3 linked regions of the Homo sapiens genome follow. The protein of the gene in region 3 interacts with the protein of the main gene of each other region in a pairwise test. Each region holds a gene or a part of one and is shown on either strand. Other genes may lie near its edges.

Region 1 (7,868 bases), on a different chromosome or scaffold from region 3:
CCAGAGAAACAGCAGTGAGTAGTAAAAAACTACAGGTGTATACAATATTACCCTTTCAAGGTAACCTCGAAGGTCAGGCAATACAGTAGGTAGAGTGTTAGGCTGGGGAGAAAGCGGACTTTTCTGGTCTTCAGCACAACTATTACAGGATTTAAAATCCCTTGGTTACAGCGAAATTCCGTCTCAAAAAAAAAATCCCTTTGTGGTCTTATAATTCTCAGGATGCCTGAGAACTATTGCTACTGAGGAGATATTACTTTGGAATCTTTCTTTAAAGTCATAAACAAGCTGTAATTATCATTTATACCCTGATTGAAGGTACATTTTCCTCCCCCACACAAATTCAAACTCTTTGCCTTCAATCACAAAGTTTTATAAATAGCAAAAGTCTGTTTACAGATTTTCCTTGAGTTTTATTGGTAATACATTATTGCTCTTTCAAATAACTCTAAACTACTCTTCATGAAAAGGATAAAAAGCAGGAAATCTCCCTTTTCTTGACATATTATCCCAACCCCATATGTTTTTCTGAAAACACCCTGAATGTCACTCTCACCACTGACTATATAGTATAGCCATCCCTGCATCAGTGTCGATTTTATTGTCTGATATGTCAAATTCAATGGTGTGATTTTTTTTTTTTTTTGAGATGGAGTCTCCCTGTCGCCCAGGCTGGAGTACAGTGGTGTGATCTGGTTCACAGCAATCTCTGCCTCCCGGGTTCAAGCGATTCTCCTGCCTCAGCCTCCCGAGTAGCTGGGACTACAGGCACCCACCACCACGCCTGGCTAATTTTTGTATTTTCAAAAATGGGGTTTCACCATGCCAGGCTGGTCTCAAACTCCTGACCTCAGGTGATCTGCCCGCCTTGGCCTCCCAAAGTGCTAGGATTACAGGCATGAGGCACTGTGCCCGGCCTCAATGGTGGGATTTTATCTTTTACTGTTTGAAACCTTATCAGTTGTTCCATTCTGCACAAGGTCTCTATCTAGGGTCCCCCCTGCAAAATCATGACTAAAGACCACTGCCAGGCCGGTGGCTCATGCCTGTAATCCCAGCATTTTGGGAGGCTGAGGTGGGTGGATCACCTGAGTTTGGGAGTTCAATACCAACCAGCCTGGCCAACATGAGGAAACCCTGTCTCTACTAAAAATACAAAAACATTAGCCAGGTGTGGTTGTGTGCACCTGTAGTCCCAGCTACTGGGGAAGCTGAGGCAGGAGAATTGCTTGAACAGTTCTCGCCTGGGTGAGACATTTGCTTAAACAATGTCACCTGGGCCACAGAGCGAGACTCTCAGAAAACAAAAAACAAAACAAAAAAAAACACTGCCAAGACCCTGCCTAATGCCATTGCTGTGACTATCTGTTCTAAGACATCTCCACTGATTTAGTCCTTCCTGCTGGATCTTGGAAAAATCCAGTAATAACATTCAGGCCTGAGAATCAGTAACCCATCAGACTTAAAATGCTCATTTATTAAAAAATAACTGAGCGCCTCCTATGTGTTGGGCACTGTCTAGATGCTGGGAATACAACAGTGAATAAGCCAGACAAGGATCCTCTCCTGGAACTTATTTTTTTTTGTGACAGAGTTTCACTCTTGTTGCCCAAGCTGGAGTGCAATGGTGCAATCTCGGCTAACTGCAACCTCTGCCTCCCGGGTTCAAGCAATTCTCCTGCCTCAGCCTCCCAAGTAGCTGCTATTATAGGCGTGCGCCACCACACCCAGCTAATTTTTTGTATTTTTAGTAGAAACGGTGTTTCACCATGTTAGCCAGGCTGGTCTTGAACTCCTGACATCAGGTGTTGGGCTCACCTCGGCCTCCCAAAGTGCTGGGATTACAGGCATGAGCCACCGTGCCCCGCCTGGAACTTATTTTTGTTTCTTATCCCAGAGATTTTTGACTTTTAACAATGGACAAAGTCCTGGCTTGGCTTAAAGACAAAGAAATCAGATTCTTTATTTGGAATTAAGCCATGCTTCCCTGGGTGGGGATAGGAGAGGTTCTCCGGGCATCCTGATATCACACAACATAGTTCACCTGCTCCTAAGTGAGGTCTGAGTGGAACTATTGACTACATTGTCATTTTTGTTGGGCCCATGCCGGGATCCAAGAAGACCATGCCCTTCTGTGGAGTATGCTCCATGACAGGCAAGAATGGCCAAAGACACAGTGCTAGCATCATGGGCCACCACGGGGTCCTAAGACCACCACTCAGCTATTATTGCTCGGGAAGACATTGCCCCCTCGTGGTTCCTCATGTAATTGAGGGAAGCTGGCAGTGCAAAGAGCTGCCAGTTAAGGCAATCAATACATCCAAACACGTGCAAAGTTTCCACATTCACTGTAGCCTTATCTCTTCTGAATGTCTTGGGTTGCAGTTTCAAGAGTTGGTTTATTTTCATCCAGGATACATGTTTGTTCCCCTTAGAGAGAAATCACATTATGACAGCAATTAAAAAAACATGTTTTCCTTATGGAAATCTTCCTGTTTCAAAATCTCCAAACCCCCAAGATAAATCCAATATGTAAATCCAAGTATCACTACTGTTTTTCTCCTCATAATGCCCTTAAAGCAAATATTTTCCTTGCTTTCTATAATCGGAAAGAGGATTCTGAGAGTATCTTGGCTCCATACCACTTTATTTTTTTGTCTTTTCTTTTTTTCCCCTCTGTGGAGAACAGAGTCTCACTATGTTGCCCAGGCAGGTCTTGAACTCCTGGGCTCAAGCAATCCTCTTTCCTCTATCTCCTTAAGTGCTGAGATTCCAAGTGTGAGCCACCATACCACTTTAAACTCCCTAAAGGGAGGGTCCTTATCTGCAACTCCCACAGCCACCCCCGCCCTATCCCCAGCAGCACTTAAACCAAGTATAAAGAATGTCTGGTGGGGGTGGGGAGAAACAGTTAAGCAAATACTGTAGTTGGAAACTGTTACCGGTGCAAGACAGGAGCAGCAGGCTGGGATGGAGAATTCCTGGGAGGAAGAAGTGGGGCAGAACCCACTGATATATGGAGTTCCACATTTATACCTTTGTAGCAGTCAAATCTAAGAGTTTAACACGGTGGCTCCACGTTGTAATCCCATCAGTTTGGGAGGCCAAAAGCAGGAGGATCACTTGAGGCCAGGAGCTCGAGCTCAGCCTGAGCAACAAAGTGAGACCCTCATTTTTCTAAAAAAAAAAAAAACCAAAAAACCATAAGCTTAAATGATCGAGTATTGGAAACGCTTTCTAAGGCCCTGGAAAAATAGAAGTTTTCTTAATAATAATGTTAGCTTCCATGTATTGTAAACCTAAACGAAGCAAGAATAAATGCTGGGTGCTGTATATAGCTCTATCAACCTATAATCACCTCGAAAACTCGAGGAGACACATTCAGCTGCTCCCATTTCACGGATGAGGAAACAAGTACGCAATCCTGAAGCTGGTGCAAAGCCCAGGCCCCCTTTCTTTTTCAAGCGTGCTTCCAGCCTCTGAAGTTCCTCCGTACGGACCCCCAGCTCTGCCTGCAATAAGGAATATTCACTTTGCCAACAAATATTTATTGAGTGCCTGCTATATACCCCTTAGCCCGTTTAAATAGCCGTGGGATTAAAAAGATAAATAGGGCAGGATTTTTTTTTTTCTTCCAGGAAGGAGCTTTCTGAAGGGTGAGGGAGAGGCCAGGTAAACAATCCCAGAACAGTCTGGTGAGAGTTGGGAGAGGAGTCGGGGGGCCGCGGGACGCTCAGGAAGCGAAGCGGGGAAGGCTCCGGGCGCGTCGCAGGACCCGCGCTGGAGATGGGTTTGAAGCCCTGTCCTGAAAAAGCCGGCCCGGAGTGGGCTGTCCCCGGTGTCCCTCGAGTTCTCATGCTGTCATTCAAGCAGCAGAGGAAGAACCGGGTCTGGCTCGGGAAGGGTGGGCTTAGGGCCAGGGGTGCAAATCCCTCGGTAAAAGCCGGCAAACTAAAAGTCGCACACATCCCAGGTCCCGGTCCAGGCCCCGGCGGGGCAGGGTCCCCGAAGTCCCGGGGCGCGCAGACGCCGGGGCCCCCGGGGGCCAAGGGAACGGCGGGACCCGACCTCCCTGCCCTCGGCCTCCCGGGCCCTCGCCCTCCGACCAGCCGCTGAGTCGGGGGCTGGGGTCGCCGCTTCCGCCCGCGGCCCGCTGCCCCTCCCCGGCGCGCGCCATCCGGCCGCCGGCCCCTCCTCCCGCGGGGGGCTCCGTCCCGCGCCCCGTCCCTCCGGGCTGCAGCCGGCAGCCCACGTCCAGGGAGGGCGGAGGGAGGAGGAGAGGCGCGGAGAGGAGGGAGGGGAGAGGGGAGGGAGGAAGGCGAGAGAAAGGGAGCTGCTTCCATCCCGGACTTCCCAGAGCCTGCCTGGAGCGCGTACTCAGCGGCTCTCGGGTCCCAGCGTCCCAGCCGCGGCCCGCGCTCCTCCGCCCCGCTCCTCCTCCTCCTCTTCCTCCTCCTCCTCCTCTCTAGGCACCCCCGTCCCCTCCTTCCAGCGGCTGCAGCCCCCAGCCCCAACTCTCCGCGCTTACTCCTGGGACGCGCGTCCTCGCCCCATCCTTTGCTTCCTTCCTTCCTTCCTTCTTCCTTCCTCCCCTGGCTCCCGCCCTCCCTCTCCAGGTCGCCCTCCCGGGGCCCGATTGTCTCGGTGCCCCGCTCCCGGCCCGCGCCCTGCCCCGTCTCTCCCTTGCACTTCCTGAGTCGCCCGCCGCCGCCGTCGCAGACTCGCCGCGGGAGCCCCAGCCCAACCCGAGCCCGACAGCCACTGCCCCGGCTCCAGCTCCAGCCCCACAGCCCGCGGCGCCCGCCCGAGGGAGCCCCGGCGCCCGGGGAAGGCTCCAGTGGGCTAGCGCGCCCTCGCCCAGCCCCGCGCCCCAGCCCTGCCCGGCCCGGCGAGGAAGGACCGGGAAGATGAACAACGGCGGCAAAGCCGAGAAGGAGAACACCCCGAGCGAGGCCAACCTTCAGGAGGAGGAGGTACTGGGCGGCTCGGTGTGGTGGCGGGGGCGACGCGGGACCCAGTGCGGGCGGCCGGCGGGGCGCGGGCCCGGGGCGCGGCGGTGGAAGAAGGTTCAGGCATGGCCCGTGCCCCGGACGCAGCCCCACAGTGTGGCCCGGGGAGGGTGGATCTCGGGAGCGTGTGTTTTTGTGTCCACGCGCGTCTGCGGGCCCCAAATTGCGTAACTCCAAGGACTTTTCGGAGACTTTTGTAAGTATAATGCTCAGCTTTGTTTGCCCGGGATTTATAAGTGGAACCGAGAGCTGACTCCTGGGTGACCTCAGATAATCGGGACTCGGAGGGTCAGGACTTAGGGCCGGGGCTGGAAATTGTGTATGGATTCAGGGTCGGGGGGGGAGCAGTTTAAGGAAGAAACTCGGGGGAAAGTTCTCGTTAAAAGATACCTCTATTCCCTGCCCCCTCCCTTTCCGTGTTAAAAGTTCTTGGTGAAATATCTTTCTAGCCGAGGTTTTTTGGATTAATAGATAACTCATCAGCCACATTCTTCTCTGCTGAGTCAAAGACCCCGAGCCTGGGCGGTGAACGCTTGTGATTTTAGGGGCCGTGCAGCTGAGGGGAGCAGAGTAAGAGGGTTAAAAACGCAGCAATTCACCAAATGCTCATCGAGGGTATTTTCATAGGACTTTGACTTCTGAGCATGCATTTTAGGTGGTGCGTCCGTAATCATGATGAAAGTTTTGTGACTGCGGAGCGTTCCTTCGGTGGAAACAAAATTGAGTAGATGTGGTCAGAAGGGGAGTCGGACTCAGGAACAAACGTTTCAGAATTCAGTAGGATATTTGTGGTATCCTACCAAATGACTCTTTTTGCAGGTACGTTATCTGGAGTCCAAGAAATTATTTCTGGCGTACTTCTTAACATCCCACACAGTTGAGTTCTTAAACATTCTAGAGGAACTTGAGAGTGTGTGTAGATGCAGGAAAGTGCACGTCTAAATATGACCCGAAAAGATTCACACAGGTATTGGATCCTGATATAGGTGAACACAGAAGGTAAACGGATTCTAAAGCGTTAGAATGTTGAGATCATTGTTGAGACACTATGTTGTGTGCAAACTTCAATTCTGATAGTGAAACCAAAATTGCAGAGGAATTCATTAATACATACAACTTCTCTGCACATTGTCCACTTGGAAAATGGTAACTATTTAGATGGAGAAGGTAGAGGAGCGAGACTATGCCAAACAATGCAAAATAAATAGGAGATTTTACTCGTCACCCAGTTGTATGGTAGTGAAAACCTAAATGAATTGCAGTCAGCCAAAAATTGCTTTTTCACCCGAGGACATTTTCTATTTTATTATAAAAGACTATTTGAAGAGTTGTTTACTTGCATGTTTTCTAATTACAATTGTAGGAATGCTACTGGCATTTCTTTTTTCAAAGCGATGGAGAGTTGAATGGTGTGTTCTGATTTTTTTTCTTGAACTTTACTGGCTGCTTTGCTATTTATTTTCCCTACCACTTAAAAAAATTTAAAAATAATGACAAGTGTGCTTTTTTAGGAATTACCATATTTAACTAATTCACTTACCATATCAAGATAATCATCGCTTCAGAAATCTTTCTGTTTCAGCTAGATGTGCAATCTGTTTGCTTCTCAGGGTTAGAATATTATATGAAACCATCTTTCTTTATTCACCCAGTTGAGAAAACTTTTTTTTTTCCTTTTGGTAGGTAGCAAAAGAGGTTCAATGTCCTAAAAATCATACCCACATTAAAATTAAGTATAGAAAAGTCACATTTTTCTGCTTGACCCCTCTTAACAGCTGCCAGGACCAAGGGATTGCCTGCCCTGTTCCTGGACGCTCCTCCGTCCTTGTGAGGTTGTGTATAATAATCGCTGTATAATCGCGGGCCATTGCAGTACAGTTGCTGCCTCTTACTTGTCCTGTTATCTGACAGCGTTCCTTTTCAGGTAGGAATGGCATGTGGCTCTAGAAAGTATCGGTCTTTTTAGCAAAACACTTGTTATGTAAAAAGTAAGGGGACACGTAGGAAGATTTCAGAACCCAAGTTGTCCAAGAGAGATGTCGTGTACAAAACAGTTAAGACCGTGAAGAGAGGGGGGTTTATAATGTCAGAAATTGAGGAAAAGAAACTAAGGTGGCCTGAATGATCCAGGTAATTTTGCCTTAATTTCCTATTTTTGGTTTATATTTTGTTCTTGAAAAACTCTTAACCTCTTTTTTGTTTTTTTCTTTCTAACCCTGAAAGCCACAGGTAAAATAAATAGAGTATTAGGTGAGTGCCATTAATGTGCCCGGCATTACACAAAACCACTGCACTGACCCTTTCCCTGCCCACCCATTGTATCAGCAACTTGCTCTTAAGCACATTTAAAAACCTTGGCGGTGGACTCCAGTAAACAGAACACACACATACAACATAGATATATACACGTAATGACGAGAGGAAAAATGTGTTTCGTTGTAATTTCTGGTAGCCATTGAACTGACATGGAAAAATGAGTCCAATCATCATTAAGGGAAAATAGTTTATTTCACAGATCATGAGGGTGGTTTGGGCTTTCTCCACATTGTAGAACCCAAGTTTGTTTTTTTCTGTGTTTCTAGTTTCGAAACGAATTCCTTCTATCAATCAGTGTATTTTAGCTTCTTTTGAGAGTTTCTAATGCTTACCCTGAAATAATTGTGCTGAAATGCCTCTTTGGTTCTAATTGTGTAGAATGAACAGTTCAGGATCTAGGAGTATTTTTGCAGCTTTTTAGGGTTGGAAGTTTTTGAGAACTTTGGCAGAACATGTATTAATACTTCTACTTTGGATAGCATTGAAAACTTTGAGGAAAAATAATTTAGGATTTGGCTAGCCAGTTGTGTAAGAGAGATGATA
Region 2 (7,999 bases), on a different chromosome or scaffold from region 3:
CTCTACTGTTGGGACCATATCTTACTCATATTTAGTTCTTGTGTCTATGCCAGGGCAAGCAGGTGCCTCATATATTTTAACTGAATTTGAGCAGGTAGTGAAAAATGTGTTTGTGGCCCAGGCTAGAGTGTGATGGTGCGATCTCGGTTCACTGCAACCGCCGCCTCCCAGGTTCAAGTGATTCTTCTGCCTCAGTTTCCCAAGTAGCTGGGATTACAGGCATGTGCCACCACCCCCGGCTAATTTTGTATTTTTAGTACAGTTGGGGTTTCGCCATGTTGGTCAGGCTGGTCTCGAACTCCTGACTTCAGGTGATCCACCCGCCTCAGCCTCCTAAAGTGCTGGGATTACAGGCATGAGCCACCACGCCTGGCCTGTTTTTAAGTCAACAAGAAAATTATCTACAACAGGAACTTCATTAGTGCTACAGTTTAGAATATACAAATATGAAAGGTTTCTAACTTTACCTTGTACATTTTGCATATATCATTAGTCATTGTTGGACACTTTGGCCATGCTTAATATAATTCAGTACTGAATATGTATTTCAATGTGAGAGTTTTTGACATCAACATTTTTAACTTTTGTCTAATTTATAATCTTAGAGTTAATGGAAATCAGTGCCTCTATAACTATGGTTTTAACCAGCTAATAAGTTGTCTTCATGATCTTTAGCTTCTAAACAATGAATAGTAGATACCATTTTTTGTTAAGATCTGTGTCTGAATTGAAAGGGATCAAAGTGTATGGTGAATAAAGCAGTAGAATGCAAATCAGAAGATATAATATTTAACATGATTAGCTAGTGTTAACTCTTGCTGTCCATCAGTTACATAATTAAAATTTTTATTCAGCACTTGATTAACATAAATGTTTCTCAATTTTCTATCTTTGTTCTACAGAATGGTAGATAACGCAGATCATCTCTGGAAAGGATATTGATCCGCCTCATGTAAAGTATGCTTAGTTCCTTTCCAGTGGTGTAAGTATCAAGTCCTTTTTGATTTTTATCTTCACAATCATTTTAGTAAAGTTAAGATGTCACTATGATTATGATCCAGATTTGACAACAGACGTTTGTAGAGTTGAAAAGCTTTTTTAGAAAATGAATCAAATGTTATACCTATTTGACATTAAGGTGAATAAGTGTCATGATCATGTGGTGAGAAATGAATTTTTAAATCTATCAGCCTTCTCTTACCATTTCTGTTTTCAACTTTGAATTTTAACATTAATTTTAAATTGAATATAAAATTAATTATTATTTTTAACTGCTTAAAGCTTAGAAGCATCCAAGATAGATGACTAACAGTTCAAGAGAGCTAATATTAGATTCCTTGTGACAAGCAGACTACTGGAAGCATACATCTTCATGTTGCCTTTTGTGTAAAAACTCCTAGCACCTTAACCATTTTCCTTTACCTGCTGGGGGCATGATGATGTAGTTAAGCCTATTAGCTGATGTGCTAGCCTTTCTTTGGAGTCAGGCAGAAAATACAAATTGAGATAGTGGTATTGTGTTGAGAGTGTTTTTGTGCTAGGATATGAACTATAACCACCAGTTCATATTAAATAGGCCTTTGAATAAAAGTATTCCGGGAATTTCAGATATTAGAGAAGACAGAGTATCTATTAGCTCATTAAGTGCATCTTTAGAGTCGAATGCAGAGTGCCTTTAGCATAAGTATTTTCTAAAATTTGATGGAGTCTCCACTTTGCTTAAATTCCTTCCGTTTTGGTTGACAGTTCTATAATACAGTAAGTAAACATTAAGAGAGATTTTCCTTATTATTTAGGCTTTTCATTATAGTTCCCCCACCCCCACCCCAGTAGATTCTATGATATAGTGAAAAGTTTCTGGAACAGACCTAGAAGATGTGAACTGTAGCCCGACTTTCTGCTAAGTAGCTATATCCTTGGGAAGGCACTTCACCTCTTTGGGCCTTAGTTTCCCTCCCCACTTTTTAAAAAAATTTATTTGCTAATGGCTATTTTCAATCTATCAGCCTTCTCTGTTACCATTTCTATTTTCAACTTTGAATTTTGACATTAATTTTAAATTGAATATAAAATTACTTATTATTTTTAACTGCTCAAAGCCTAGAAGTTTCTGAGATAGATGGCTAAGCATTCAGGAGAGTTAAGACGTCTAATGGCTATTGAAAATAGTAAGATGTCTAATAGTTACTGAAATGAATGTAAGCATCATGAAGCCATGAATTTTTGCCTGATTTGTTCCTTGTTGTGTCCTCTGTGCCTTGCACAGGATCTGTTACATAGTAGGCATTCAATAAATGTTACTTAAATGAATGATTTTTGTCTAAGTGATCTCCAGTTTTCTCATTCCACACCTAACTTATATCTCCCTTTATAAATGTGCATGTTTGTACTTGGATTTTTGTCACATATGGTAGAAATAAGATGATCAAAGTATGATTTCATGAATCACAGTGTTTATTGCCATACAAAGAGAATTTTTTCTTGGGTTCACAGTACTTAAAGATGGGGAGAGTAACATAGACAGACTTCACAGGGAATACACTCAATAGATGAGGTACATTAACCACATTATGAATGTGTTCCAAAGCTATTAAAGTGTCTTTGCTCAATTATGATGAAAGGAGGCCTCTGTGTTCAAGTGAAGGCTAAAGGTGGAGGTGTACCTTTACATGAGCAGTTCTTGGGAGAGGCTGGCTTGACCACCATAGCTGAGATCTGAGACCACAAGGAAGGCCCCTCAGTGCTAGAAAATGCTGGCCTGCAAGGTATAAAAGCTTTGAGGCCTGTTGCAGCCTGAGCTCTCTGGTTTTGGAGAAGCTGCTGACAGAGAGTAGCCCTGCCACAGCCTAAGCTCCCAAAGTGTCTGTTAAGCTCTTGAGTGTATATGTATTTTGAAGTCCAGTAGTTGTGACAGTAACTCACATATGCAGTTTGACATGAGGTGACATTCCTGAGAGGATGGAGAGTTCTCTCTCTGATAAAAATATTGTGATTGACCCTAGAGTGTGTTAAATTAGCATGCAGTAAATATCATGTATGCAAAACAAAACTAACCTATTTTGCCTAGTCATTCTAGATAATAAAAATAAAGACAGCAGAATTGAGCTGAAGAAAAAGCTGTTATCCAATAAAATTTTACTGTTGGTGCTTTACAAGTAAGATAGTAATGTCCTTTTTACCTCTGTGATTTCAAGATTAATTATTTGTGAATGCTTTAATCTTCTTTGCTCTACATGTTTGTAGAATTTAGCTTATGAAAGTATATTCTAGACCTCATGCCTTATCCAAGAAGGGTTTAGGTACATATTCAAGTCAGGATAAAATGTATTGTGAAAAGTTATTATTATGGTCTTATGGTATGATATTTTCTTAGAATATCAGTTTATGAACTGAGCCATAATTCCTGAATTTAATTGTTCTTTTATGCCTTAAACACTGTCTGTTATTACAGTGGTGAAATTCTTCTCACATCATTTTCAATTATTGTTGGCCTGAGTCTGCATTCAGATTAGTAATTTAAAGTGAAAGATGTTCCTTATCCTCTGAACAATCCTTGTGCATAAGAAAATTAATTCAATTCTTACATGTTATCTTTTTCTGTTATAAAAGAATTGCTGGTATCATGGACTTAGATGACCTTTGTAGGTCATTTACTGCCATAAATTCGTGATTATATGCTTAAACTAGGTAAATTATGAGAAATAAAATTGTGAAATGCCGGAGTATATGCCTTTGTTTATATTAATACACATTGGAACATTATTCTCAATATCCAGGAGAGCTTCTAGACTCAGCGTTTTCTCAGTAAAATATTGTATCTTCAGTGTCACATGCATGCTTTGATCCTGTTTGTTATGCTCTTAATCACTTTGCTTTGTAGTGATCATATGAATGATCATTCTAGCAATTGTGGATCATTTTGCTTTAGGTTATATTTGCATTAGGAAACTCTCAGTGCAGGGCACAGACATCTAATTTGAACAAGGTGATACATAAAGGGAAATGTATTCTCTGATGAAACAAAACAGCAAGAAGAGCAGGGATATATCAGGGGCTTAGGGATTATTGGAACAAGGGATGTGAGTGCTGCAGAGCTTTCTCCATCGCTCTGTTCCACGTTTCTTGGTATGTCTGCTTCTTCCTCCCATGAACTAGCTGCTTCCATATAATGAGGAATTTACCAGACTAATATCTTCCTGCAACTGAACACAGTTATGGTGACTGTTCATCTTTCCCCTCGTCTGACTAGAAAATTATGGGGAGAGCAAGGTTTGGCTTTCTTCTGTGCTCACCCCACTGGCCAGAAGGTGGGGTATTACGAGTGATAGCCCAAGAACATGTGCTTGGAAAGAATGAGGTGTTCTAAGCAGACAAAGTAAATAGGTGGCCTATTGTTTCTCCTTTTATGACTTGGAATAAAAGTGGTTCTAATAGTCAATGAATCTGAAATGACACAAAATATTAGATTGTTTCATATGCTGTGAAATCTTTAGTTTTGACAATTCTAATTCAAGTGTTAGGATGGATACTTTTCAGTAATAAGTGAAATTCATACAATTTACTTTTGCTTTATGCTAATACAGAGTGCTGCTCCATACAAGGAATGGTTTGAAGAACTGTATATAGATAACTAACTGCTCTGATATGAATACTATAGGAAAATACTATGATTGGGGATTTTTGTCCATATAATAAAACAGTTATTGAAGTCATCTAAAGTAAGATCACTTTATGAAATACTTTGATAACATGAAGACTGAAAATAGCAACAAACAGGTCTACTTCATTTTCAAGGGAAAATAATAATGTTTATGTTTAATTTTTTTCATTACAAAATATTGTGGGGGAACTTAGGCCATCAAGAAAGAATATAATAATCATGAAAATAGGTCTTTTTAAAATCATGGCTAACTTGTTACAAGTGAGTATTGGAAGAAATCAGACCCTAACATTTGTAGGTGTAGAGCAGATACTGTGGCCCATGGGCACAAATGGCCTGCAACATGTTTAGGTCCACAGAATGTGTGTGTTTGGTTTTGTTTTATTTTTATGAGCTTGTTTTAAAAACCAGGAAGATTTCATCTACAGTTCTAGATTTTTCCCTACTTATTTTTAAAAGGATTTGAAAGATAAAACAATCAGTGAAATGGAATAGACTATCCAAAGGTAATGCAGATTCATATGGAAATTGTGTATATGATAAAGGCAGCATTTCACATCGGAGGAGAAGACAGATATTCAGTAAAAACATACGACATCTAGCTGTCCATTTGGGATGAAATAAAGCCCCAATTTTTTATACTTGTTAAGTCAATAAAAATTCTAGATGGAGCAAGGATTTTAAATGTAGAAAACTATTACTAGGACCCCTAGGTTCATCAGTAATTAGAATAGTTTTATCTAAATGGCTTTAAATGAGACTTAAAGGAGTAGAATAGCCTGTGTGCCAAATCATATGTTTCCAGTTAAGTCCTGCAATGTATTGTAAAGGAGAATGATGTGTGCTTTTGGAGTCAATAAGATCTAGGCTTAAATCTTTTTCCTACTGTTTACTCAGATTTTTTGTGAAGTACAAAACTACACTGAGCTTTAGTTTCCTCAACAATCAATCCATCAACATAAAATGAAATGAATAAAGAACATCTACCATGGGGAGTTGCTGTGAGAATTGGATGAGATTATGTTATGTGAAATTCGTACCCAGTTCCTGCCTAGAAGTGACTGTTAATAAAGTTTTCATGTAGAAGGACAAAGAAACAGTGAGACCTTCAATAGCTATAGGACACTGGCCCAGAGCAGATGTTTGTTTGAGAAAGATGAAGAAATTTCTTGACATCTGTTTCCATCTGCAAACACTTATTGAGAGCCTACTGCATGCCATGCATTATATTTGGCACTAGAACAATAAATATCAAAATAGAAGAGATTACAACTTTAAAAAATCTTGAATGGAAAACTCAGGTCTTATAAGAAAGGAATTCAAGGCCGAGCATGGTGGCTCACACCTGTAATCCCAGCACTTTGGGAGGCCGAGGCGGGCGAATCACCTGAGGTCAGGAGTTTGAGATCAGCCTGGCCAACATGTTGAAACCCCATCTCTACTAAAAATATAAAAGTAGCCAGGCTTGGTGGCAGGTGCCTGTAATCCCAGCTACTCAGGAGGTTGAGGCAGGAGAATCGCTTGCACCCAGGAGGTGGAGGTTGCAGTGAGCCAAGACTGCGCCACTGCACTCCAGCCTGGTTGACAAGAGCAAAACTCTGTATCCAAAACAACAACAACAACAACAACAAAGGGATTCAAGCAGTGAGAATTTTTATAGTATTTGACTACTCCCTTAATATTGTTACTCACCCTAAGAAAACATTTTCTGATGTGCTGTAGTATCTTGTGCTAGTTAAAGGAAACATGTAAAAGTAATTTCCTAAGAAAAATGAATAGCATTGTTTGGCTACAACCATGAAAGATCTATTTCTCAGGGTAGCTATTAAGAGAGAATGCATTACCAGAGATGGAAAACTTAGGAAATTGCTAAGTAGTGAATGAAATGGTGCTTATTTTTTTTTTTAATGTACCTCTGTTTTCCACTTAAGTATTTTTGCTGGTTATTAGCATTTGCTTGGACTTAGCTTAGCAAATCATTTGTTCTCACTAAATGAGGTTGTAGAGAATTCCTAGGTCTGTTTAGCTAATATTTGGTAAATAATATAATACAAACTATTTTTTTCAGTAATTTTCCATTAATACTCTAATGTAGAGTAATACACTTGAGATGGGCAAAACACTTCTGAGTTATCACGTAGCCTGGGCTTATTGCACTCCATGTACCTAATCTATTGTTCTGGTATTATTTACATAACTAAAATTTTGGTTCTGATATTTACCAAAATTGAGGAAAATGTAAATTGTATGCCATATGAAATTAGGTTTTATGTTACACCTATGTTCACCTACTAATACATTTAGTATCTGTACCAATCCATTTGCCATGGCACAATCATTCTAGCATGGGACATACCTTCATTTTCAATACAGAAGCTTATGTAGAAATATTGCATCTTCTGAGCATTCTGTATAATATGTGCTTTGGTAGATACTGTCAATAAAGAGACTTCTTTTTATCTCTTTTTTTTTAGTTTGCTGGAAACCATGTCTCATTATACAGATGAACCCAGATTTACCATAGAGCAGATAGATCTGCTTCAGCGACTTCGGCGTACTGGAATGACTAAACATGAAATTCTCCATGCCTTGGAAACTTTGGACCGTCTTGATCAAGAGCATAGTGACAAGTTTGGAAGAAGGTCCAGCTATGGAGGAAGTTCATATGGGAATAGTACTAACAATGTCCCAGCATCTTCCTCTACAGCTACAGCTTCCACACAGACGCAGCATTCGGGAATGTCCCCGTCACCTAGCAACAGTTATGATACTTCCCCACAGCCTTGCACTACCAATCAAAATGGGAGGGAGAATAATGAGCGATTATCTACATCCAATGGAAAGATGTCACCAACTCGCTACCATGCAAACAGCATGGGTCAGAGGTCATACAGTTTTGAAGCCTCAGAAGAGGACCTAGATGTAGATGATAAAGTGGAAGAATTAATGAGGTTAGTGACTTTGCTTATTCAGAGTCCCTAAAAATGTCTGTATTCTTAGATTGTTTTTAAGTAGTATGCTGCGTTTCAGCTACTTAGCTATAAGAACTGTAACTTCCTCTAGCTATAAGAACTGTAACTTCCTCCTCCCACCTTTGGAGATGAAAGAAAGAAAGTTCAAGCTTTATGTTTTTAATTTAAATTTTCTCTTCTTTACTTCAGCCCTTTCTCTTTGCTGCTTGACAAGCCTTTTCCATTCTGTTTATCAAACACTAATCTTCTCTATGACTCTAATAGCTAATTTCTGACTAACAGACACATTCTAATCCTTAAAAATCTGTTGTAAGTACTTTTTCTGAGGGATAATTTTATCTTGATCAGAATATGTACACTCTTAATT
Region 3 (7,999 bases):
TATGGGTGAGAAGATGAGGGAAAGAATTAAGGGGAAAAAATTTGGACAGCACACACTTTTCTTTCATTCCAAAGGTGCCAGTCAGAACACAGATCCATGGAGTTCCACATCTAGCCCCAGGCTACCAAGCATTAATTCAATGTAAATGGTGTCACTACAACATCAAAAAGAGCAGTGCTAGGCAGAGGATTTTGTATAAAATCATCTAAAACTCTGAAAAACTACAAAAGCATCTCAAGAAAAAAATTAGGTAAAAGCAATGGAGTTTATTTCAGTGAAATTATTTTAAATTAGATATGATATATTAAGCTCCCATATGCCCCAACCTGGTAGAAAAGTTCCTCTCAGTGAGAAATCATTTATTTTAATGGCAAAATTTTTACATATCAGTAAAATCTGTTATACTTAAAACTATGTATACAGTACATTTCTGGCAAAAAACCTTATACATCTTTCAGTTGTCAAGACAAAGTAAAAATATGGTTGCATAAAGTCACAAAAAATATAAACTGCTGAAAAGATAATAAAAAAAGATTAAAAATCATTTGCATTGCCTCCCTTACCTCTTCAATATTAGTAACAATTTGCAAACAACAAAAAAATTGTGAAAATTCTGTTGCAACCTTGACACACTTAACCAAAGGTTGTCATTTCAAATATCCTAGCTTAAAAAAGAATTTACTGCAATTGTCTGTGCATTTATCATACTATTTATAGAAGTGCAATATTTAAATATTTTCAAAATAAAACACAGTAACTAAAATGAATCACAATAACTTATAAGAGAAGCAAAGTTTACAAAATTAACAATTTTTAAAAGGTCCTATTTAATTGGTTCCTCCTTTTCTTCCCCCCTCCCCACAACAGCGTATATAGCGCCATTACTTAATTCCATATACAAATTTGTAACTTTAAAAATACAGTCTTCTGTTAACATCAGGAACATTATGCTGCACTTAGAGACCCTAAGTAAAATTAGAATCCCCTAAAGAGAGGGCCACATAAAAAGTAAATACAGTTTTGAACTCATATTTAAATGGAACTTCTATTACTTTGTACAGCTTTCAAATTAGAAGTTGAATAGAACAAGCCCTGGACAAAAAGCAGCAAGATTTTTCTTTTGAATTCAGTGCATGATTCTAGAAGTGCTTGAGTCAAATCTACTAGAGTCACCATTTATGCAAGCTATCATGACATTTGAGTTCATTATCATCTGGTTACATAAGTGCTCACTGTATTTGCCAAAAATAATCCTAAAATATGATTCTTAAAATAGAAAAAATATAGCTCTGTTGCAATGGGAAAATGATTAATACAAAAAAATCAATTTCTTAAAGTTAACATAAGGCAAATATAAATGATACAATATTATCATACACGATACCAATTTTATCTGAGGTGACTACATCTTCATTTACATCTATTGTGTGATGCAATTAAGAATGACAAAAAAAAATATCAGTGTAAATCAGAAATCTTAGGAAAATCCAGTATCTTTAAAAAGTAATTTAAGCCCAAAACAAATGTGACCACTTATTAATAGAATTGATTTGTTCCATATTTTATCAAAATAATAATAATGTTATATCCAACTAAAGAGTTATAACCAAGTGTCATATGTAAACTTTAATTGGATCCTAGTTTGAAATAATCAGCTATAAAGAAATTTGGAGTTAACTTCAGAAATTTAAATATGGCTTGATTAGATGATATTGGGGAATTATTACTTTTACAATGGTATTACGGATTTTTAGGAGAATGTCATTATCTGTAGGAGATACTTGAAGTATTTTCACGGTGATAAGTATGTCTGTAACATCCAAATGGTTCAGGGGGAAAAAAGCATATATACATACACAAACAAACACATATATGCATATATATGCATAACTAGCTGTATCTATACATATATAGGTATAGAGAAAACAAATGACAAAACATTAACAACTGCTGAATCTAAATGGTAGATATACATGTGCTTACCAAACAGTTTTTCAATTTTTCTGTTTTTAAAAATGTTCATAATAAAATTTGGGGGGGAAGTCATATCAGAGCACTTAAAGTTTGTAAGAGATAGTTTTCTATGCACTGAATCAATTTAAAAGATACATAATCAAATAAGTAGCAATGTGTGCATATACTCAATAATGACTGACATGATGGGCCAGAGGAATTTGTGAAATTGGCAAAAATAATATGATTTATCTACAGTATATGCAACTCAGCTCTTGTAACAAAAAGAACATTTTGTGTACAGAATATCGTGGGAATATTTTAAGACTAAAATTAGTGCTAGAGTATCTGAATATATAAATTCTGTGTTTTTGGACTTGTAAAGCTAAAATGAAATTTAAATTAGGTCTGATATCTGATATGACTTACCATACACTACAGAATTTTAAAAGGGGGATATGGAGGCCGGGTGCGGTGGCTCACGCCTGTAATCCCACCACTTTGGGAAGCTGAGGTGGTGGATCACGCGGTCAGGAGTTCGAGACCAGCCTGGGCAACATAGTGAAACCCCGTCTACACTAAAAATACGAAAAATTAGCCGGGTGTGGTGGCACACGCCTGTAGTTCCAGCTACTCAGGAAGCTGAGGCGGGAGAATCACTTGAACCCGGGAGGTGGAGGTTGCAGTGAGCCGAGACCACACCATTGCACTCCAGCCTGGGTGACAAAGTGACACTGTCTCAAAAAAACAAAGAGGGAGGGATATGGAAGAAGTTATCCAGACTGTTACTACTGCTGGAAGATACTAGCTATTTATGAAGTTAAGGAGCCCAGAAAACAAAATCACCTATAAAGGTCTTGGGAATTCTAGGCAAATATTTATTGAATAAATTTATAACACGTAATATATAACACGTAATAATATATGAAGGCCTTTATGTAAATTAATATTTCAAAGCCCTGTGTACACTAAATATAAAATAGCCAAAAATCAAGTAAGCCTGAGACCTATAATTCACTGTGTATATTATGCTATATACATACTGCACAATGAACAACAAAATGATCTTAATTCATTTCTGCATATTAGGCTTTTAACTATAAATCATGTTCCAATCCCTGTGCAAATTGCATTCCAAAACGCCAGCCCTCGGTTATAATTATGTATAACTTGATTACAAATGGAAGCATTTGGCTGTGACTTATTATGCATGCTTATTGCTGCAAAAGAAATAAGCAAAGTTTTCTGTTTATTGTGCAAGAATTTTAATTAGATTTGCACACATCTCAAAAAATTCTATTGTGTGACTTCCAGGTCTTGGAGTTAGGTCAACAGGAGAAGAGTCAAGTGAGGTCACAGATGAGGTAAGAGAAACTTCTGAGGATTTTCCTTGAGCCTCAGCATCTGAATCACTCCTTTGGCAAGATCGATAGTTGCTAACTGATCCCGATCTCTGTGGAGTAGCAGTCCCTGATTTGGCTTCTGTAATTTCATCTGGGTAAAAAGAATTTCAATTTATTATAGTCTATGACCTTCTCCCAAAAATTTTTGTAACAGTATTGAATTTGCTTCTTTAAGTGGGGCTGCTGGCCAGCTATCAAGAGCACGCTTATTCTAAATACCTTCTAAAACAGTCAATGAGCCTGTATTAAACTATTCATCTTTTTTACATATAGTATGTATTCTCAAGATAGCTAACCAAAGTTGGGTACAGTATAGCTACTCATCAGTTGCAATCCAAGGTTAAGAGCCCAGTAAACCAACAATCTAGGGATTAATAAATATTATTCTATAGCAATAAAAAGTAATCCCTCTATATTAAAATCATAGAATCGATGCACTTAAAATTTGGAGGGTATACTGGAAACCATCTCATCCAGCCCCTCACTTTATTGATAAGAAAACAAACCCAGAGAAATGACTTGCCCAAGGTAACAAATGAACAGAAAGGTAAGTCTAGAACCCAACTCTCCTAAGTCTCAGCTCAGTGCTTTTTACTTTCCACTTTCCCTTCATATTTCATTTAGTATTTCATAAAAGAGCAACAATTCCAATGAATAAAAATCGAAGAAAAACTAAGGTTGGGAACACAGTACAAAAACAAAATGGGCATTCAATTGGTATACCCCAGTACTAGTAAATCTAAGGTTGCAAATTTGATCCAAATACAAGAAAAATAAAACTCATTCCGTATTTCAGACTGCATTAGTATATGTTAGCAGATACGTACTATATGGACCTAAAGATAACCAGACAAACTGGTTTGGCCAACATATCATGGCTCAAACCTGTGTCTTTCTGCTACTATGTGTGTACTATCTTTGAGTTTATAAAGAAGAAAAAAATTCAAACGTGAACCTCATCTAATAATTCTATGCAACCTTCCATAAGCAAAGGTGATACTATATATATATATTTTAATATTTTGTAAAGACAGAGTCTCAGTATGTTGCTAAGGCTGGTCTCAAATTCCTGGGCTCAAGCCATCCTCCCACCTCAGCCTCCCAAAGTGCTGGGCTGTTTACAGGCATAAGCCACCACACCTGCACTCAACAGCGTAGCTTAATGCAATTGAATTGGCCAATGAAGAATTGCCATAACTTCATTCTTAACTGAAAACTTATTTAATAATAAATAAAAGCTTACAGAAGAGTCAATATTTATTTCTAAATAAAACATTGTCTCTTATCAAAATGAACTACACCAAAAAAACAAATGCAGCAGAAAACTATCACCTTAGGATCAGACTACACCTGGCTTTAAGGATTTTACAAGATGATAATCTTAAAAGGACAATATGCTATAAGATTACAAGAAAAATAAGATTCATAAATGTTAATATTGCAAAGGCACAAGAAATCACATTTTTTATTCCTTTGCAGTTGAATTACTAGGAACAAGTCAAGAAGCCTCAAAAGAATCAAGGCGTAAAATACCAAGTTAGTAACAAGGTCTAATCTATGTTGTTTTGTGTGATGTACATACCATCAATACTACGGAAATCCAGTAGATAAGTTCTACTATCCACTTGGTATAACTGTAGACTCATTTTGGAGTAAGTGCTTGTCACAGGATTCTTCCTTCGTACACGCAAATAATATGGGTTTACAACCTAGCACATGGTATAACAAAAACCAAGTCAAAAGTAATTCTTCTATAAAACATTTTATAGACTATGGGTTTGCCAAATATGCTAATAATCAAAATGTTATTTCTTTCTTACCTTCCATTCATAATCCAATTGTTTGATTGCTCTACATACTTCTGCCATAATATCATTTGGTCGACTTTGACTTCTAATTCCTAAATGCCATTTTGCTTTCCTTACACCTTGGTGTTTGGATTTCTGTGGATTTAATTCATCAAGGGTATGGCGTGCCCTTGGTGTTTCAGCAACCAAGAATGGTACTCTTTCAGGATGGGGCCGAGTCAGGTGATGATCATCAAGAAAAGAATCAGGTGGGCTTGTCGCCAAATAGAAATCTTTGGCTTCATTCATTATTCTCCTGTTATCTATTATGAGATGGTAGGCAACTGCCAAAGGATCCTGGTGATTTCTGTTGTAAAGACAGCTGAGAACTTCCTCTTCTGAGCACTCAAACTTTTCACATACTTCTTTTAAGGCTTCATCATCAATCATGGTTGAACTATATGATGGATCCTCAGGAAAGAGATATTTTGGAAGGTCCTGTTTAAACCATTCATGTTCCCTGAGAGAAAAATGGCAGGATCAGGAGAAGGACTTTGAATAGAGCTGAGACTGAAAGTAACAGTTTAGGGAATTTAGAATATGACTTAATTTATATTTATATTCATACTGTATTATTGTCACTTTTTGCACTGAAATTTTCCTCTTCTAGCTCGCACTTCATTGTGTATGTTGAGGGAAATGCTCCAATTTCCCTCCAGTTTTAAGAGGGAGAATGTATTGACACAGCAATGGGGGGAAAAAAGTTATGGGACAAATGACAGCGACAAACAATGAAAAGAACAGCTTATTTCCAGCTTAGAAAGAGAACATATTAGGTAGCTTCATTATAATACTCTTTTGATATAATGTTAAGTGAAGATAATGTAACAACAAGAAAAATAGTAGACAACTACTGAGTACTTACTATATGCTAAGTTTTATGCTAAACACTTCATATACACTATCTCCCCTCATCATCGAAACAATTATATGAAGATAATATCTCTTTGTTTTAAATGAAGGAATTGAGGTTAAAAAAAAAATCAAGGAACATGCTCAAGGTCACAAAGACAGTAAGTGACAGAACCAGGATTATGACCCAGTTCTGTGTGACTGGAAAGGCCATGCCCTGAATGATTTCCTATTCTAATTCCCTAACTTCGTATATTTAAGAATATGTTTGACCTGAACTATGTCACTTTGCTAAAACTAAATAAAATCCAGAGACGAAAAAAAAAACAAGAAAAGAACAATGGTTATCTTCTGGGTCATGGGATTAAAGATAATTTTTTATTCTCTTCTCTATTGTTGGTGTTTTTCTAAGTTTTTTCAATTGTCATGTATTATATTTTAATTGGAAGAAAATAGGTAAAATACAAACAAAAACATTTCTTACCTAGATATCTTAAAATATAAATTTTAGAGAATGATTTGTCCTTTCCCTTTGGTGATAAAATCATGCCGTGCCATTCATGGTCTCTTTTTTAGCTAGTCTAAAACGTGTAGTAAGTGGAAAGTAATCAAGCTTCAAGTTCCACATATAATCTTTCCTTCTTCTTCATTATACTAATGCTTTCATATTTACTATTCCTAGATCCATATCTGATTTCTTTCTTCCTTCTCAGATAAATGTGCAGTCTAGCCATTAGAAGACCAAAAGGACCAAAATTTCCACAGGGGGGAAAAAAAAGAAACAAGGCTTGCAATAAAATTGTTTAAGTCTTCATCAGAAATGGCTCACTCTAATTTGAGAAGAAAATTTGTCATCGTCATTTTTGTCTAATTTAAACTATTAGGTTGAACCAGATGAAACTGGTTATACTGACTTTTACCTACAAAACAGGAATTTTGCATGTAATTCAATGTATACTACCAGGAAAAACATGTCAATTAAATCTCATTCCTTGGGATTAAAAAAAGAAAAAAAATACAATAATTCATGAGATAAGAAATAAAATAGCCACCCACAAATTTACTACTGAAAAGTATTAATCCTAACGCCAGGCATACTGGCTCACACCTGTAATCCCAACACTGGGAGGGAAAGGCACAAGGATCACTTGAGGCCAGGAGTTCAAGACCAGCCTGGGCAAAAATAGCAAGACCTGTCACTACAAACAAAAACAAAAAGCAAAACAATAACAACAAAAAACAGCCAGGCATGATGGTGGATGCCTGTAGTCTCAACTACTAGGGAGGCTAAAGTGGGAGGATCACTTGACCCAGGAGTTACTGGCTACAGTGAGCTATGATCACACCACTGCACTCCAGGCTGGGTGACAGAGCAAAACCTTGTCTCAAAAAAAATAAATAAATAAAAATAAAAGATATACATATATATGGGGCCTCGCTATGTTACCCAGGCTGGTCTCAAACTCCTGAGCTCACATGATCCTCTTTCCTCAGCTTCCCAAAGTGCTGGAATTACAGGTGTGAGCCACAGCACCAATCTTTCATTAGCTTTTTTGTTAATTTAAAAAGTAATATGATGTTCACTGTAAAAATTTCAAAACAAAGATGTGTAAGTAAAAAGTGAAAGCCCTCCCTCTTACGAATCTTACTTCCCTAAGGTAACCAGTTTACTATGTATTTCTAATAACAAAATAAAATAAATGTGTCTATACACTCTATTTTTTTCACATAAAAACAGGATTACACTGTATATTCTGTTCTGCAACTTTTTTTTTTTCACATAACTTTTATCATGGATACTATCAGATCTGATAACTTCCAAACTGCTTTATTACCTGATATCTTTGATTGTGGCCCTCTTCATGGGATCCACCTGCAGCATATGTTTCAAAAGGCTAATCACAGAAGGATTTAAATATTGAGGGGTATAGAAGATCCCATCAC

Evidence for each region. The genes of interacting proteins can lie anywhere in the genome.
Region 1: the proteins of PRKAA1 (region 3) and RBPMS interact in binary tests that used the Homo sapiens proteins (3 or more experiments, as listed by UniProt).
Region 2: the proteins of PRKAA1 (region 3) and HMBOX1 interact in binary tests that used the Homo sapiens proteins (3 or more experiments, as listed by UniProt).

What each region holds. Positions count from the first base shown.
Region 1 is NC_000008.11:30,380,186-30,388,053, forward strand, and holds the start of RBPMS (RNA-binding protein with multiple splicing), read left to right. Parts: upstream 1-4,355; 5' UTR 4,356-4,907; coding exon 4,908-4,973; exon of another isoform or gene 4,974-5,216; intron 5,217-7,868.
Region 2 is NC_000008.11:28,962,909-28,970,907, forward strand, and holds part of HMBOX1 (homeobox-containing protein 1), read left to right. Parts: intron 1-902; 5' UTR 903-959; coding exon 960-982; intron 983-7,134; coding exon 7,135-7,611; intron 7,612-7,999. UniProt on the Homo sapiens protein: Binds directly to 5'-TTAGGG-3' repeats in telomeric DNA. Associates with the telomerase complex at sites of active telomere processing and positively regulates telomere elongation.
Region 3 is NC_000005.10:40,759,576-40,767,574, forward strand, and holds part of PRKAA1 (5'-AMP-activated protein kinase catalytic subunit alpha-1), read right to left. Parts: coding exon 7,891-7,999; intron 5,664-7,890; coding exon 5,177-5,663; intron 5,066-5,176; coding exon 4,939-5,065; intron 4,893-4,938; exon of another isoform or gene 3,448-4,892; coding exon 3,203-3,447; 3' UTR 1-3,202. UniProt on the Homo sapiens protein: Catalytic subunit of AMP-activated protein kinase (AMPK), an energy sensor protein kinase that plays a key role in regulating cellular energy metabolism.